Regions from separate parts of the Homo sapiens genome. Here region 2 is linked to region 1. The links come from fine-mapping of genetic effects on gene expression. A gene starts in region 1. The other region holds a variant in brackets. All regions are shown on one strand. Distances are from middle to middle. Region 1 holds the start of LRRC69 (leucine rich repeat containing 69). Region 2 overlaps LRRC69 (leucine rich repeat containing 69).

What was found. PIP is the estimated chance that this variant, and not a neighbour inherited with it, causes the effect.
Region 2: its variant is fine-mapped to the expression of LRRC69 in whole blood (TOPMed, PIP 0.92).

Annotation. Positions count from the first base shown.
Region 1 is chr8:91,098,236-91,106,456 of GRCh38, reverse strand. It overlaps LRRC69 (leucine rich repeat containing 69), which reads right to left and starts at 3,838. Exons shown (of 8, transcript NM_001129890.2): 1 at 3,613-3,838. The coding sequence starts at 3,795.
Region 2 is chr8:91,213,106-91,221,326 of GRCh38, reverse strand. It overlaps LRRC69 (leucine rich repeat containing 69), which reads right to left. Exons shown (of 8, transcript NM_001129890.2): 8 at 2,070-2,437. The coding sequence ends at 2,327. It also overlaps a transcript of SLC26A7 not described here. Among named protein-coding and RNA genes, the nearest start is that of MIR4661, 12 kb to the right of the region's middle. The variant C/T (reference allele first, on the strand shown) is at 3,878.

The DNA of each region.
Region 1 (8,221 bases):
AGCATTTTATGAGTACAGAAATTTAAAAGTAGTGTTTTTGTTTTAGGAACTTAAAAACAAATCAAGACTATGTTAATACTTTGCATTCTGTGGGAAATATGACCAAAAAATCAGTATATTGGGGCAAACTGGACTTCATATGATGATAAAAGGCTACTTCAAAAGATAAACACTGTAGACATAAAACAAAATGAAACAAAAGTCATAGGTAGATGGGTAGCTTTAAACATTACTGATAAACGGTATGACTATAGCCACATAAGAAAGAGTTCAAATTAACTTTAAAAGTACACGGGAATTTTAGAGAAAACTGTTAGAATAAGAATTATAATCACTGAATTTTGACATACACATCACCAAGTTATAAAGCCCACAAGAGACACTCTGTGGCATCAGTCAGGTCAGCTGAATGTCACAATACACCCTGCCCCTTCTCTCTGCTTTATTTTTCCCCTTAACACTAATCACCGCCTCACGCCCTATTTTGCTTATTTGTTTCTTACATCATTCCTGACTAAAACATAAACTCTATGAGGGCAGAGATTTCCACCTGTTTTGCTCATCACTGAATCACCAGTTCTGAGTGCCTGAGACACAGATGGTCCTCATTGCTTATTTGTGGATTAAATAAATGAAGGCAGAAATTGAGGCCCAAAGAAACTAAGTGCCTTGTATATAGCTGGTAACTGCTGAACCAGTTAAGTTGTGCCAGCACTTCTAAACTCTCCTTTTCAATTCTCTAAGCTGTCTCTTTCTTTGAAACCTTCATCTGCCTTTCCTTTTTTTTTTTTTTTTTTGAGACAGAATCACTCTGCAGCCCAGGCTGGAGTGCAGTGGTGCAATCTCAGCTCACTGCAACCTCCCACATTCCGGGCTCAGGCAATCCTCTGGGACCAGAGGCACGTGCCACTGTGCCTGGCTAATTTTTATTTTTTTGTAGAGATGAGGTCTCACTATGTTGCCCAGGCCAGTTTCAAACTACTGAGCCCAATCAATCTGCCCACCTTGGCCTCCCATACTGCTGGGATTACAGGTGTGAGCCACTGCACCGGGCCATCTGCCCTTTACTACCAACTGTGAGACGGATGGAGCTGTATATCTGAACTCTATGATAATCTACAACCATTCTTTGAGGGTTTCTAGCACATTTTATCTAGCATGCTTCTAGAACTCCCATTACATAGGGAAAATTGTGTTTTTTTTTCCAAAATTCCACAATTTCTCCAAGACCCTATATAAGAAAAACTACTAGTTCATGAACAGCTAAACATAATACCATTGGCCTGAATCTGACTTTTAAAGTACTTTAAAGACAGAATAGACTATAAGCAGCCTAGTTGCAAATCAGTTGAATTCTTAGTGGTGTAATTTCTTCTTTAAAAGTAAGCACTGGGCTGAGACAGCTCCCTGGTGAAGGAACTAAGAGTGAACAAACAGAAGTCAACACGTAGGTTACCCCTAAATAGAAGAATGAGAGGGCAAGTAACAAAGGGAGCCACAAGAAGAAGACAATGTAATGATAATCAGACTCTTGGGGCTTTTTCCTATGGAAATATATCTTGGAATGTGTAACTTTTTACTAAACAACTATTAACCAAGTGTGAGACAAGAATACAGAAATTTTCAGATATGCAAGGGATCAAACAATTTAACTACCACATACCCAGACTAGGATGATTTCTCGAGACTCCTGAAAAACTAAGAGAGCAAGCCAAGAAAGGAAAATACAGGATACAGGAAACAGTGGGTCCAATTTAAGAGAGCAACAAAGGGAATGTCCTTGGCTGACAGTATCTAGCAAACCTAGATAGCAGTCAACATAGAGTGGGGCAGAGGATGGAGGGTCTTAGAGGGAAGTCTCTCAAGGAAAAGTACATTTGACAGAAAAAAATTATACAGTTTGAAATAAAATGAGGCTACCATAAAACTAAGGCACAAGAACAAAGGAAAGGTTATTAGAAACTCCAAGGGAACAAAAATGGCATATAAGAAAGAAAATATAATCATAGATTAATTGACTCCATGTGAATATTTATTTATTAGTAATATATATTTTTAGAAGTTTAGAGTTACCCAAGACACAAAACAAATATTTAATTATGGTTATAACTGAATAGGATATAAAAGCTGTAAGTGTTATAAAAGTAAAAACTTCAGAGTTTGTGAGGGGGGAGAGGAAAGGACAGCTGAAGGTGGATTACAAAGGCTGACACTGTCATCTTACGAAGTGGGGAGTCAAAAGAGACTGCAGTTGATGAAGGAAGAAATAAAGGTGTAGTAACATTACATGTAAAAGATACCTGTAGACCTAATCCCCTGATTCCAGATGTGGATCAATACACAATAGATACATTAATATAACTGTATCTAGAAGATGAAGAAAAATGATGCCAAAAATAGACAAATCAATAAAATAGATGAGTTAAAAGTGGTTATATATGGAGATCGGGATTGAGGATGAGGGGAAGTGGGATAGAAGATAGCTTCTTGCTATAAGCTTTTTGTAATATTTAATTCTCGGTAACCAATGGTTAGTACTACTTTAATGGAAATAAATTCAAATAGAGGGAGAGAATAGGTTCATGACTCAGTCAAGTCCCAAATTCTTTTGCAAAGAAACTCCTCTTTCCTATTAAAAAATTCCAAGTCCTTGTTGTCTTGTAACTACAAGTATACCTTCTGCAATTACTAATGAAGGGGGACTTTGTAAAAGTTACCCTATTTCTTATAAAGATACAACTACAGATTACAAACTCAATTTCTTAAACGTAAAAGGAAATGAGGTAGGGTGAAAGTAAGAAAATACAGATTTATTTTTTGGAACTGTAAATTCAAAATTAATGAGCTATAACGCCTTAGCTGCTTCTAGGTTCTTCCTGTGCTGATGACAATTCAGCAGTGAACAAAAAGAAAATTACAAAGTTAATATCCCTTGCCTTCTCTCAACCTCAAGATTTTTGGCAGCTAGAGTTTCACATTGTTAGGCAGAAAGGTTTAACACAAGCATATGGGATTCATTCATGTCAACTATTCCTCTTTAAAAAAGAATATTTTTTATTTAAAATATTAAACTTCCTTTAAAGACTATTTCAGGAGAAATAAATGTCCCCTCCTTCCTATTCCCTGCCAACACTCCATTTCAAAGTTTCAGCCTGCCCTAGGAAATTGAAAAGGAACTCCCTTGCTGCATCCTAAATGTCTCTTCATTCTAAATGCAAAAGCTTCAGGACAGTCCCCAGGGTGAACAGCATCTCCTGGATCCTCAAAACTACTTCCAGATGTAAGCCCCCAAGATAGACGACCAGATCCAGGTTTCCAACCCCTTTCCAGATGACAGCCTCTAAAAAGATGAGTGTGGCAGAGACCTAGTCCCCTGACTCCAGATGTGGGCCAAAGAGCACATGAATAAATTGAAACATCTCTCCCTACCACATGGAATTCCCTAAGGGAGAAAGCCTTCTGATGCCTCTCCAGCAACACTCCACATTAAGTCTCCAGATACCTAAGTCTCCATAGATCGAAGTGTTATTGTTCTGTCTCTTACCCCTTTTTTCTCTCTTCCTGTTTTCCATCTTCAATACCAAACCACAACAGCAAAACACTGTTCCTCACCTGGGTCAAGTTGCATAACTCTGGACACACTTTGGGGATTAGGTTATTCTGAAGGACTAGAGTCTTCAGGCCAGGCAGTTTTCCTAATGCTGAGGGCATCTTTGTCATCTTCTTCCCATTCAAAGTAATGATCTTCGTATTTTTACCACCACTCAATGCTTTTATTAACAATCTCTCAGTCATGATCTTGGAAAAGAAGTAGAAAACAAGGTAACCATTAGAGTTCTTTATTATACAGCTTTAGAACCTCTAATTACAGAATTGGTGTGTCATAGAAACAAGAACATTCTGAGATCCACCATGTTGAAGGGGGGAAGCATTAGATTATTTTCCTATGTGAAAGATACGAAAGGAAAGTAGATGGTCCAGGTTTGGGGCAGGAAATGTATAATGTAAGCCTAAAATAGCTTATGCCTGCGATATTAAAGCTATCAGAGATTAATGAGGACACAGAAGTGAACTTCTAGGAGCTCCCACTAGTCTAAGATGGAAAATATTAAGGATCAGAAAGAAATAATCTAGAATAGACTGAAACATATCAAAACACATTAAAATCTGAGTTCATAATGGCATTTTTTAAAAAGAAACATTACTCACCCTGGGAATTACTAGCGCACCAACTCAGTCTGAAAATTGATAAAGGAAAAAATATAAGCATTTATTCTGCTTTTCCAGTACAAACTGCACTTAAATATAACTTAATAGTTAATAAAGTTCTTATTCACAAGAATTGAAACTAATAAATGAGAAAGACAAAATAACTAGAATAATCACAATTTTTGCAAATTCTAATAAAATAATGGAGCTATGCAAAAATCATAATTGGAGACTGAAAGTATTAGATGAAAGGTTGATGAGGAACTTTATAATCAAGTGATCAGGTTAATAACCCACTAATCATTTTAGCATCAATAAAATTGAGACAATCACATTATAAGCCTTATGAAGTAATGAATTAAAAAGTACACAGCAGCACCACCTATGAAATGTTCCTGTCCAAAAATTAAATCTGAATCTAATCATGGCTTCAAGATCTAACTACCATTTACAAAAAAACAGAACTAGAGAATAAGTTAAGTTCATTATAGGGAAACAGTCAAATCTATAACATGGAAGATTCTACAGGACTGGTCCCTGGTCCAATGTCACAAGGTTTCACCAACAAATGAAAGACATTAATAAAAAGGAGGGAAAACTGTTACGATGTAAGTGAAACTTAGGGCAAATAACAGCTAAATGCAATGTCTGGACTGTATTTGAATCCTCAGTTGAATACAAACATCTCAGGGAAATTTGTTCATCGGCTATTAGATGAGAGAAATTAATTCTGTTACATGTGAAAATGGTATGGTGGTAGTATTTATTTTAAATGTGCTTAACATTCAGAAATGCATACTGAAATTTTCAAGTGAAATAAAATGATATCTTGAGTTTTTTTAAAAATAATCTAGGGGGGAAAGTGGGTGGAAGAAACTGATCAAACAAGATTGACAAAATGTTGATAATTATTAATGCTGAGTAATAGACACATAGGGGTTTGTATTTGTCCATTCTCGCACTGCTATAAATACCTGAGACTAGGTAATTTATAAAGAAAAGAGGGTTAATTGGCTCACAGTTCTGCAGGCTATACAGGAAGCATGGTGCTGGCATCTGCTCAGCTTCTGGGGAGCCCTAAGGAAGCCTACAATAATGGTGGAAGGCAAAGGGAGAGCCAGCACTTCACATGGCCAGAGCTGGAGGAAGATAGGAAGGAGGTGCTACACACATAAACAACTAGATCTCAGGATAACTCACTCACTCACTAGCAGGAAAACAGCACTGAGAGGATGCTAATGCATTCATGAGAACTCCACCCCCAGGATCTAATCACCTCCCACCAGGCCCAGTCTCCAACACTGGGGATTATAATTGAACATGAGATTTTGGAGGGAACACAAATCCAAACCATATCAGCATTCATTATATTAGTCTTGTTATTTTTGCATATGTTTAAAAATTTCCAAATAAAAGATTTAAACGGTGACAAAAAGGAGAGGGAGGGGAGTTGTGGCCAGTAACATTTGATTATTATCACAAGCCCACTAGCACCCAGATAGGATGAGTCTTAGAGGCATTAGGATTACACATGTATGTGACACACTTAGATGTGGGTTTCCAAAAACTTGAACATTATAAAATACATTCTGCACTGAAAGTGATCTGAACAGAAATCAATCCTTCCTTTGGCATTCAGAAATCACTTTATTTATTTATTCAACAAATATTTACTGACCACCTACTACATAGTCAACACTGTTGCAGGAGTGAATGAAAAAGATAAAAATTTCTGTTCTCAAGGAAATTCCATTCTAGTAGGGGAAGAAAAGCAATCAGATAAGTAAATCTATTATGTTAGATGGTGATTTGATGCCAAGGGGGAAAATCTAAGCAGAAAAGAGAAATAGGGAGTGTGGGAAATGAGAAGTTTACAATTTTAAATAGGATGACCAGGAAAGGCCTCACTGAGAGAATGCTATTAGAGACAAGACCTCTTCCAGTAAGAGAGTAAAATCAAGTGCCAGAATTCTAAAAAAGGATCATTAAATTTTTAAAGGGATTATAATGAATATCAATATCATAACAGTAAATCAAGAGATGCTAATAGTGACTTTCAGTTGCTAGAAAGATAATTTTTCAGCTTCTTAATCACTGCTGTTTGCCTTCCCTCTTCCAAACCTATGCTTCGTCTTCTTTACTTTGATATTATTTGTTTCCTAAGAATAATAAAGCTGTTACTATCAAAACAAACTGATCACAAGGCTTTGTTTAAAAAAAAAAAATCCATGACAATCACCACCTCTTAAGTAAATATCGGGTGGCTAGCATCCCAGATGACACTGTCCAAACCCTGGAAATTTGTTACTGCTTTAAGTAGGTAAACAAACCAATACAATCTGACACTGCTTTCTGTTAATCTGCTGAACCTAGAAAACCTGGTTAACATTCTTGAGTCTTTCTTCTCCCTTACTTCCAATATATAATCAATCCTATTCATACTGTCTATTCCAGTTATCTATCACTGGGAAACAAACCACCACACATCTTAATGGCCTAAAACATTTATTTTATTGACAAATCTTTTTTTTTTTTTTGAGACAGAGTCTCACTCTGTCGCCCAGGCTGGAGTGCAGTGGTGTGATCTCAGCTCACTGCAAACTCTGCCTCCCAGGTTCATGCCATTCTCCTGCCTCAGCCTCCCAAGTAGCTGGGACTACAGGCACCCACCACCACACCCAGCTAATTTTTTGTATTTTTAGGAGACAGGGTTTCACTGTGCTAGCCAGGATGGTCTTGATCTCCTGACCTCGTGATCCGCCTGCCTCGGCCTCTCAAAGTGCTGGGATTACAGGTGTGAGCCACCACACCTGGCCTTTATTGACAAATCTTAATCTGGGCAGGGCTTGCCTATAGTTCTCTTAGTGACAGCTATAGCAGCTCAAAGTCTGCAGCAGAAACCATCTAAAGGTTCACTAATCCACATCTGGTGGTAGATACTTCTTGTTGGCTAGGGCCTCAGGGTGGTCAGCCTCTACATGTAGCCTCTCCAATGTAGCTTGGACTCCCTCCCAACATGGTGGCTTGGTTTGAAGGTTGAGCATCCCAAGAGAGAAAGTGGAGTGGAAGCTGTATTACTTTCATGACCTTGCTTCAGAAGTCATACAGAATCACCTCTACCACATTTTATTCATTAGAACCAAGTGACAGAAACGAGCTCATATTCAAAGGAAGACAAATTAGACTCTGCCTCTTGAAGGCAAGTGACCAAAAATTTGTGGACATGTTTTAAAACCCACCACAATCCACCCTGTAGCCATGAGCTGTTTACATTCCTCCCATATGCAAAACAGAGGCACTCTTCCTGGAAAGCCCCTTTCCCCAAAAGTTTCATCTATTTAGAACCTCAGGTTCAAAGATCTTATCATCAAAGTTAGGTACAAAGGTAGATGAAGCTCCTCTGAGGCAGTTCCTTGAGTTCAGCTTGAGTGCAGTTCATCCTGACCTGAAGACCTATCAACTAAAGAGACAAGTTATCTGTCCACACATACCTAGAATACAACATAGGTAAAACAAAGGGCAGGCAATAGTTAGTCCCATTCAAAAAAAAAAAAAAAAAAAAGGGAAAAATCAGAGGAACAAAGTAGCCACCGGTTCATAGCAATTCTGAAATCAAATGAGGCACAAGGTTGTCATTATTTTTGTTTCTTGTTTGTTGTTTTTGAGATGGAGTCTCGCTCTTTCACCCAGACTGGAGGGCAGTGGCACAATCTCCGCTCACTGCAACCTCCGCCTCCTGGTTCAAGCAATTCTCCTGCCTCAGCCTCCCGAGTAGCTGAGATTACAGAAACGTGCCGCCATGCCTGGCTAATTTTTGTATTTTTAGTAGAGACAAGCTTTCGCCATGTTGGCCAGGCTGGTCTTGAACTCCTGACCTCAGGTGATCCACCCGCCTCAGCCTCCCAAAGTGCTGGGATTACAGGAGTGAGCCACTGCACCCAGCCCACATGTACTGCCTGGGATTAGCTTTTGGTTCCCGTTTGGGCTCTTGATTCCATCCTCTTGAATTTCT
Region 2 (8,221 bases), 110 kb before region 1:
AACAGGCAACCAACAGAATGGGACCAAAATTTTGCAATCGACCCATCTGACAAAGGTCTAATATCCAGAATTTACAAGGAACTTAAACAAATTTACAAGAAAAAGACCAACAACCCCATCAAAAAGTGGGCAAAGGATATGAACAGATGCTTCTCAAAAGAAGACATTTATGTGGCCAACAAACATATGAAGAAAAGCTCAACATCACTGATCATCAGAGAAATGCAAATCAAAACCACAATGAGATAATCTCACTCCACTTAGAATGGTGATTATTAAAAAGTCAGGGAACAATAGATGCTGGTGAGGCTGTGGAGAAATAGGAATGCTTTTACACTGTTGGTGAGCGTTCCACTGTTGCTGGGAGTGTAAATTAGTTCAACCATTCTGGAAGACAGTGTGGCTATTCCTCAAAGATCTAGAACCAGAAATACCATTTGACCCAGCAATCCCATTACTGGGTATATACCCAAAGGATTATAAATCATTCTACTATAAAGACACATGCACACGTATGTTTATTGTAGCACTATTTACAATAGCAAAGACATGGAACCAACCAAAATGCCCATCAATGATAGAATGGATAAAGAAAATATGGTACATATACACCATGGAATACTATGCAGCCATAAAAAATGAATGAGATCATGTCCTTTGCAGGCACTTGTGTAAAGCTAGAAGCCATCATCCTCAGCAAACCAGCACGGGAACAGAAAACCAAACACCACATGTTCTCACTCATAAGTGGGAGTTGAACGTTGAGAACACATGGACACAGAAAGGGGAACATTACATGCCAGAACCTGCTGGGGGATAGGGGATGAGGGGAGGGGACTTATAGGATGGATCAATAGGGGCGGCAAACCACCATGGCACCCGTATACCTATGTAACAAACCTGCATGGTCTGCACATGTATCCCAGTTTTTTTTTTTTAGAAGAAATAAAGAAAAAAAACAAAAACACTTTTTCAACAGCTTAGGTTATAAGAAATTATTTCCCTAATCAAAATCAATCTACTGAGCAATTTTCCCTCAAAATAAGCACACATACTTTACCCCTGTAACGCATTTTTGATGAGCTCATTTGTACTTGGTTTTTTATTTTTGTTTAAAATGCATTCTTGGTTAATGGAGCCTTTAGAAAGTTACCTTGAGGCCCCATCTCTGTCTCAGTGGGGCCTGAACTTTGCTCTCTGGTTTGAGGATCTCTTTGCTGTGCTCCATTGATTTCATTTCTCAGTTATGCCAGAGGCAACTCTGATGCATAAAGAACCTGAATTAAACTCATAAAAGGCCTTGCTAGGAAGGTAACCTGATAATAACTACCTGGAAGATGAGAGACTCCACTCAGCTTTCCACCAGAAGGACCATACGTAGTGACAAGAAGAAATAGATTTCTGGTGGGGTTTAAATATGAAATTATAATGACATTTCTCACTTTTCTGAACATGCAGCAGCTTTATCTAAGTCTATCCTGTGGTTCTCAAACTAGAGCATGCAAAGAGATCACGTGGAGGGTTTGTTAAAATAGCGATTTCTGGGCCACACTCCCAAAGTTTCTAATTCAGTGCTTCTGGAGTGGAGCCAGATAATTTGTATTTCTAACACGTTCTCAACTGATGTGGATGGTGCTGAGTAGAACACAATTCCAAGAACCACTGGTCTGTGCAAAGCACACCACATATTTTCATAACTTATTTTTCTACTTTTCTGTTGTCCTTAAAGAAAATGAGCACAATTCTCATTTCTGAACTACTGCCTCGGCAGTTTGTCGTGTAAAAAGTTTTTTTAAAACGAGAAAAAAAAATTAAAAACAGTCACAAAGTGATATTAGGGGTTATCAAACCTGAGTTTCCAGGCTTCTACTCATTTTTTCTGTGAAGGTCAGTAGATATTAGTGCCTCAAATGAAATCACACAAATATAATACGACTATCTAGCACAAAACAGTGATTCCTTTTCAATTGCAAAACATTCATAAAATAAATACTTTTCCCCGTCAAAGTCTCTTAATACTCACCTAGAAAAAGGGGAGTGGTAGTCATAAAACAGCAGGAAAAAATAACTCACTTGCCACACAAATCTTTATTTTTCAATTTTTTTTTGTACTTTTTTAAGCCAAAAAAAGCACACCTAGAATCTAAGCAAGCTGAAGGCAGATTGTAGTGCTTAGATTGGGAACGTTATAATGGAATTATTTTTCTTCCTTTATTTAATGTGTTGACAAAGAGAACAGGCATGGTATCTTAAGTAGGGCATAATCTGTGTATGCAGAGCTGACAGGGCAAGTGGAGTGAGGCTATGAATGAGCACCTCACCTGTTCTACACCTGAGCAATTCCAAAGAGGTTAGGGTCACGTTGAGTAAAACATTTGTAAGAACAAATTAATACTTGGAGAGGCACCAGCTTCAGATTCTTGCTTATCTTCCAGTCCTAAAAAGTAAAGATTAAAAATAAAATTTAGGCAGTGTTCAATAAGTATTTTTCATTAAAATAAATATTTGCTTTCTCAGAGGTTTCAGAACATTGACTTCTAAAGACGCACTATTCTATTTATGCTTGATTTGCTCTTTTCTCACACATAAAAACACAAACTTAACTAGCTAAGAAAATCATACTCAAATGCTAAACAAAATCCAAATGATGAAAGATTATGTGTGCTTTTATTCAAACATATCATTATGTAGTCTAACCATAAAGTGTTTGAAATGAAGGTGAAAAAATGATACAGAATCTACATGAACCTGACTTTTGTCCTTCAGGGGTATTAAATTGATCAATCAGCAAATACGTACTGAACTTCTTAATGGGTATCTTGGTTTTACCTGCCCAGCATGCAGTTGCCATGGAAATTAATCTTCCTAAAATTCTTTGTTCACTGTCTGTACTATTCATTAAGATCTTCACTGGCTGGGTCTCAGGCAAGTTGCCTAATACATGAATTAAATTTTTGTACTTCAAAATAATTTGTACAAAATAAGCAGTCAAAATCCTGTTAGCCAATTTAGTGCACATATATTGACCATTTATGTTTGAAATAATGGTAACCTCAAAAGCTTACCATTTCTATGTTTTATAATCATGTCCTGAAATCAACACAGCTCTCAGTGAGAGAATCCAAAAGATTTCCACAACTGGTAACTGGGAAATATTTAATTGGTTGATAACGCTGCTTAGTTTTACCATGAAACCATTTGGCCAACACCATCACAACCCACAATGAGAGATTTGATTGCTGTTCTGTTCACTCTTCCACAAAAGAACTCTGAGATCCTATTGAAAGGTTCAGACAGGTAAGCACAGTTATTGATCCACCCTTGAGAGAGTAACAGCCTTCTAACCCTGGTGATGTATCAGCAGGGAGCCAAAGTCATAAGTCACATCCCCTTCACACAGACCTCCAACAGTGGCTGTGAAGCACTTAGAGGATACACAGCACTATCCTAACTGTAAAATATTTTGGATGAAGGTGAAAAATGGTATAGAATATCTACAAACCTGACTTTTTTCCTACAAAGATATTAATTCATCAATCAGCAAACAGGTTCTGAACTCCTCAGTGGACGTCTTGGTTTTTCCTGTCTGGGATCCATTTCCCATTGTGCTGGCACAAAAGCCCTGTTTTTCCTTTGGGCAACTACCACTCCTCCAATCTCAGTGCATATGCTGGGGGAGTGAGAGAGCAACTTTTCTCACTCCCTGGCTCAATATATGACCATGTAACTGCGGCCCAGGCAATGACTCAATTGCTTCCCTCTGACAATGGTGATTAGTCTGGGGTAAGCACATAAGGCAAGACAGTTCAAGGAAGCCAATGAACATCAGCCCCAGGACATTCTCTGCATCTATTGGGAGAAGGAAGCTCTCCCTTTA[C/T]TCCCAAAAGACACAATTTAGGCAGCAGCCACTGGAAAACAAAGCCAAAACAAAGGAATGCAGAGATAATAAATAAAGGACAGATTCCTAATGATAAATTTGGAAACCTAATTTAGACATGACAAAATCTTCAGCCAGATTCATCCCTGGACCTTCTTCATTGCTTAAGTTGGTATATGAGTTGGGTTTCTTTAATTTGCAACCACGAGTCCTGACAAATTATAAGTTACCTAAAATCTGCACATTAGGCAAAGTGTCAGGCTACAAAGATATACAGCAAACAATCCCTGCCTCTAAGAATCTTAGCATCTAGTTGGAAAGACAATAATCATACACACACACACAAATAGAAACATATGGCTCAGCCCAAGGATAGGTTCTATATGAGTGCAGAGACAGGAGACACCATAGGCTGCATATTAAGCAAGATTTCACAATATAAGAAAAAGGTGAGCTGGGTTTTGAAGGTTGACTAGAATGTGTCTGCCTGGGGAGAAACCAAAAGGACATTTCGGGGAGGGTGAACTATGAGAGCATAAATTCAAGAATGTGCACATTGTATTGGGGAAACAATACAGTATAAACTATAAATAGACCATAAAATGTTAAATCATGGGATATCAACAATACATTAGTCCAGAAATAAAAAGATTTCATAAGTATTTTTGAATGACAGACACATATAATATTTTAAATCTACTATATAAGATATAATATTGATTCCCTAACTAGATTATAATGATTAAGTGATGAAATTGTGGTTGGAGAACAAATGGCAAAAGACAGGCTAAATATGGTCTTTTCCTTTTCCATATACTAGACAACCGTCTCACCCAACCAGTTAATCCTGCCTACTTCTGTAACATATCTCAGCTAGAATTAAAGAACTATTGAAAATAAAACATGCTACATACATTTTCCTCAGCTCCTCTTTAAGAAACCTGAACAATTAATAGAGCCAAGAACCAAGAGGAGGAAGTTAGAGAAAGAAACAAATATAAACTAAGGAAACAAGTTCGACATCTGATTTGCTTTGTCCAGTTTCTTCATGAGGTGAAAAGTTTATAATAGAAAGTATTAAAGGCATTTTCTATTTCCAGTGTGGTTTTAGCCATTTCCCTTGTGTCATTAGGACATCGCATGGGCAGAGTTTAGGTTGGCTCTTATTGCAAGCAGGAATGCAAAGTGTCTGTGTCCCTCTTTCCCCTTCTTGGGGGAAACATTGTTTAGTTAATTATAATAAAATGAATATTTTGGTGAGATTTTTAGAAGTCTATTAAATGCCCGTTGTTAGTTTTATAGTGAACATGAAACTTTGAAGGTGATTATTCTCCAACTTAATAATTTCTATTTCTTATACAATATTTTTCAGGGCTATGAATTGTTTTCTAGAAATTTAACTTAGAAAAACAACTCAGCATAATTTCTTGGTATTACACTTTTCCATCTAGATTCATCATCTCTAGTAATGTTTGCATAACATGAAATTCTCGTACCACCTTAACACTTGCTGCCCTTTTAAATTTGTATTTCTATTTGTGGCATTATTGCAACTGTTTCTACTGGTACGACATATGTCCATTTGAAATGAGCATGTTACAAAGGAATAAGACACTCCCTGTTATAGAGGACCTCTCTTCACAAACCTCAATTAACAAAACCTCATGATTTTGTCAAAGACAAATACTGCTTTTGTCATTGTTTATAGATAGAGATCAAAGCACTCAATGAAATATCCTTTCTGTCAAGCCAAGGTCAGTGAATAGGAAAAGGAGTTGGTCTGTGATTATATATGCTTTTATTTTGAAAAAATATCATTTTAGCAAAAAGCTTTAAAAAGTAAAATGCTATAATACAGTTTACTTTTTCACCATTAATATTTGCATTATTTTCTAAAGCAAACAAACACATGATTATATTCTCTACGTGTTTTTTAAAAAGTAGTTTTCCACTTTAAATTCAAATATTACTCTTTGCTAAGTTTTATGTTTGTTGAATGGTAGAATTGAGAAATTTTTAAAAATCATTCAACATAATTGGTAACCATCACTGCCATATTTTAAACTTTGAGAAATTAAAAATTATTGCAATATATATTTATATGGCACAGTAAAAAGTTTGGATAAGATTTCAATATTATATGAAGCACAAGGAATAGAAAAAGAGCATAAGATGGTTTCCTGTTTTCTCAGGAAAATGTATCTCAGTAGGCAAAATAATGTCCCCCCAAAGATGTCCACATCCTAATTCCTGAAATTCATGAATATGCATGTCACCTCACATAGCAAAAGGGACATTGCAAGTTGGGTTAAATTAAGGACCTTGAGATAAGGAAGTTACCCTGGACTACCTAGGTGGGCGCCATGTAATCACAAGAGTTGTTAAAGTGGAAGAAGGAGATAAAAGAGAAGGTCCAAGTGAGGTGATATGAGAAGGCCTAGATCAGCCAATACTGACTTTGAAGATGGAAGAAAGGAACCATGAGCCAATGGATATGGGGAGCCTCTAGAAGCTGTCAAGGGCCAGAAAATGGTTCCCCCCAGGAGCCTCCAGATGGAAACCCAGCCTGCAAAATCTTGATTTTTGCCCAGTGAGACCCATGTTGAATTTCTGATCTACTTGACTGTAAAAAAAAAAAAAAAATTTCTGTCAAGTCACCAAGCTTTGGGAAATTTGTTAACAGCTTCAATGGAAAACTAATACTGTTATCATGTTCCAAATTAGCAGGACTTGAAAAGCATAACAATGGCAGCCCTCCCTGCTTATGGAATCAATGCATTTTCATGCTAGAAGAGACTGGTCTAATCCCTTCATTGTCCAAATGAGGAAATTAGTCCTGATATAGTAAGGTAGATGACTTACCTTAGGCCTCATATTTCAAGGTAGAGACAAGATTAGAATCTAAGTTCACTAAATTATAGCTTAGTGTTAGTCATTGTATGATTCCCAGGCTCTTTCATTAATGAGGGTTTCTATTATAGCTTAATAGCAACTACAGAATGGTTTAGAAGAATGAACAGTTGTTGGAAAGTGCACATGTTTTCAAATAACATACTGAAGAAGTATATTTCTTTTCCATGCCAGTCTGTCTCCAACTGAGGGTTAAACGTATTCACTTGAATTATCCAGGCATCACTTGAAACTCAACATGTCTAAGATACAACTTGGGGTCTTGCCTCCCAAACCAGCTCCCTTCTGGACTCTTTCTCCTTCACACCCCTCAGAGGTTTCCCATGCTCAATCAATCAACAATTTATATTGTCCTTCCTTCCTTATGATACTTTCCTTGCTTTTCCACCACCACACCTTACACCCACAGTAGGAAACCACTCTAACTAGCCTCTTATCTTCAGCTTCTCTTCTCTTCAAACTTCAACTAAGCCAGCACACTATTGCCAAGTGACTCTTTCTAAAACACACACACACGAACACATATATATCTCACCGGTTTTCCCCCACATGTTCAGTAGGGTTTCATTTCCAAACAAGATCAAGTTCAAACCCCTTACTTAATCTAATCCTTTGACAGGTTCATGGCATGTGACCTCAACTTTTTAATAATGTCTCCTCCTGCCACTCCTATCCACAAACCAACCTAACTGATTCACTGCCCTATGAACATGATTTATTCTCCTCCTTACCATTCTCTTCTCCTAAAACATTCTGTTTACTTTCTTCTCCATGTATCTGAATTCCACCTATTTCAAGGCTATATACAAGTCCTGTGTTTCTAGGCACTTCCCAAACCAGACAACCTACAGTGATCTCATCTTCCACTTTGAATCCTAAAGCAATTGGTCTCTATCACTCATTTAATATCTAGATTTTATTGCTAATATCTTTTACCTCTTTAGCATTTAAACTCAAATTTTAAACCATTTGGAACAGACTAGGTCTCCTACTTATTCGCATTGTACTTAGCATTCAGTTCCCTGCTTAAAGCAGGCCCTCAAAAATTTATGGAATGACTAAATATAATTTATCACTGCCATGCCACAGTGATAAGTGACATGAGTACTGCTCTGAAGTTAACTACTCCATTTAGCAAGGGTAACCATACATTGGGATTTGCCAAGGACAGTCCTGGTTTCCTGTTGTTTTTACAGCTATTAATAAAATCCACTTTTACTCTCAAAAGCATCTTGGCTTAGACGACACATTATATGGTCATTCCACCCTTAGGGCAATTTGGACTGTGATAAGAACAGAAACGACAAAGAAAATCCCATCATGTTCCAGCCAGCCACCCAGCTAAGCAGCATTCCCTTCCCCACACAGTGGTCCTGCTCTCCCACAGCACCCCCTGCATAATCAATATCCTCTGAATTTCACAAGGAATTTTCA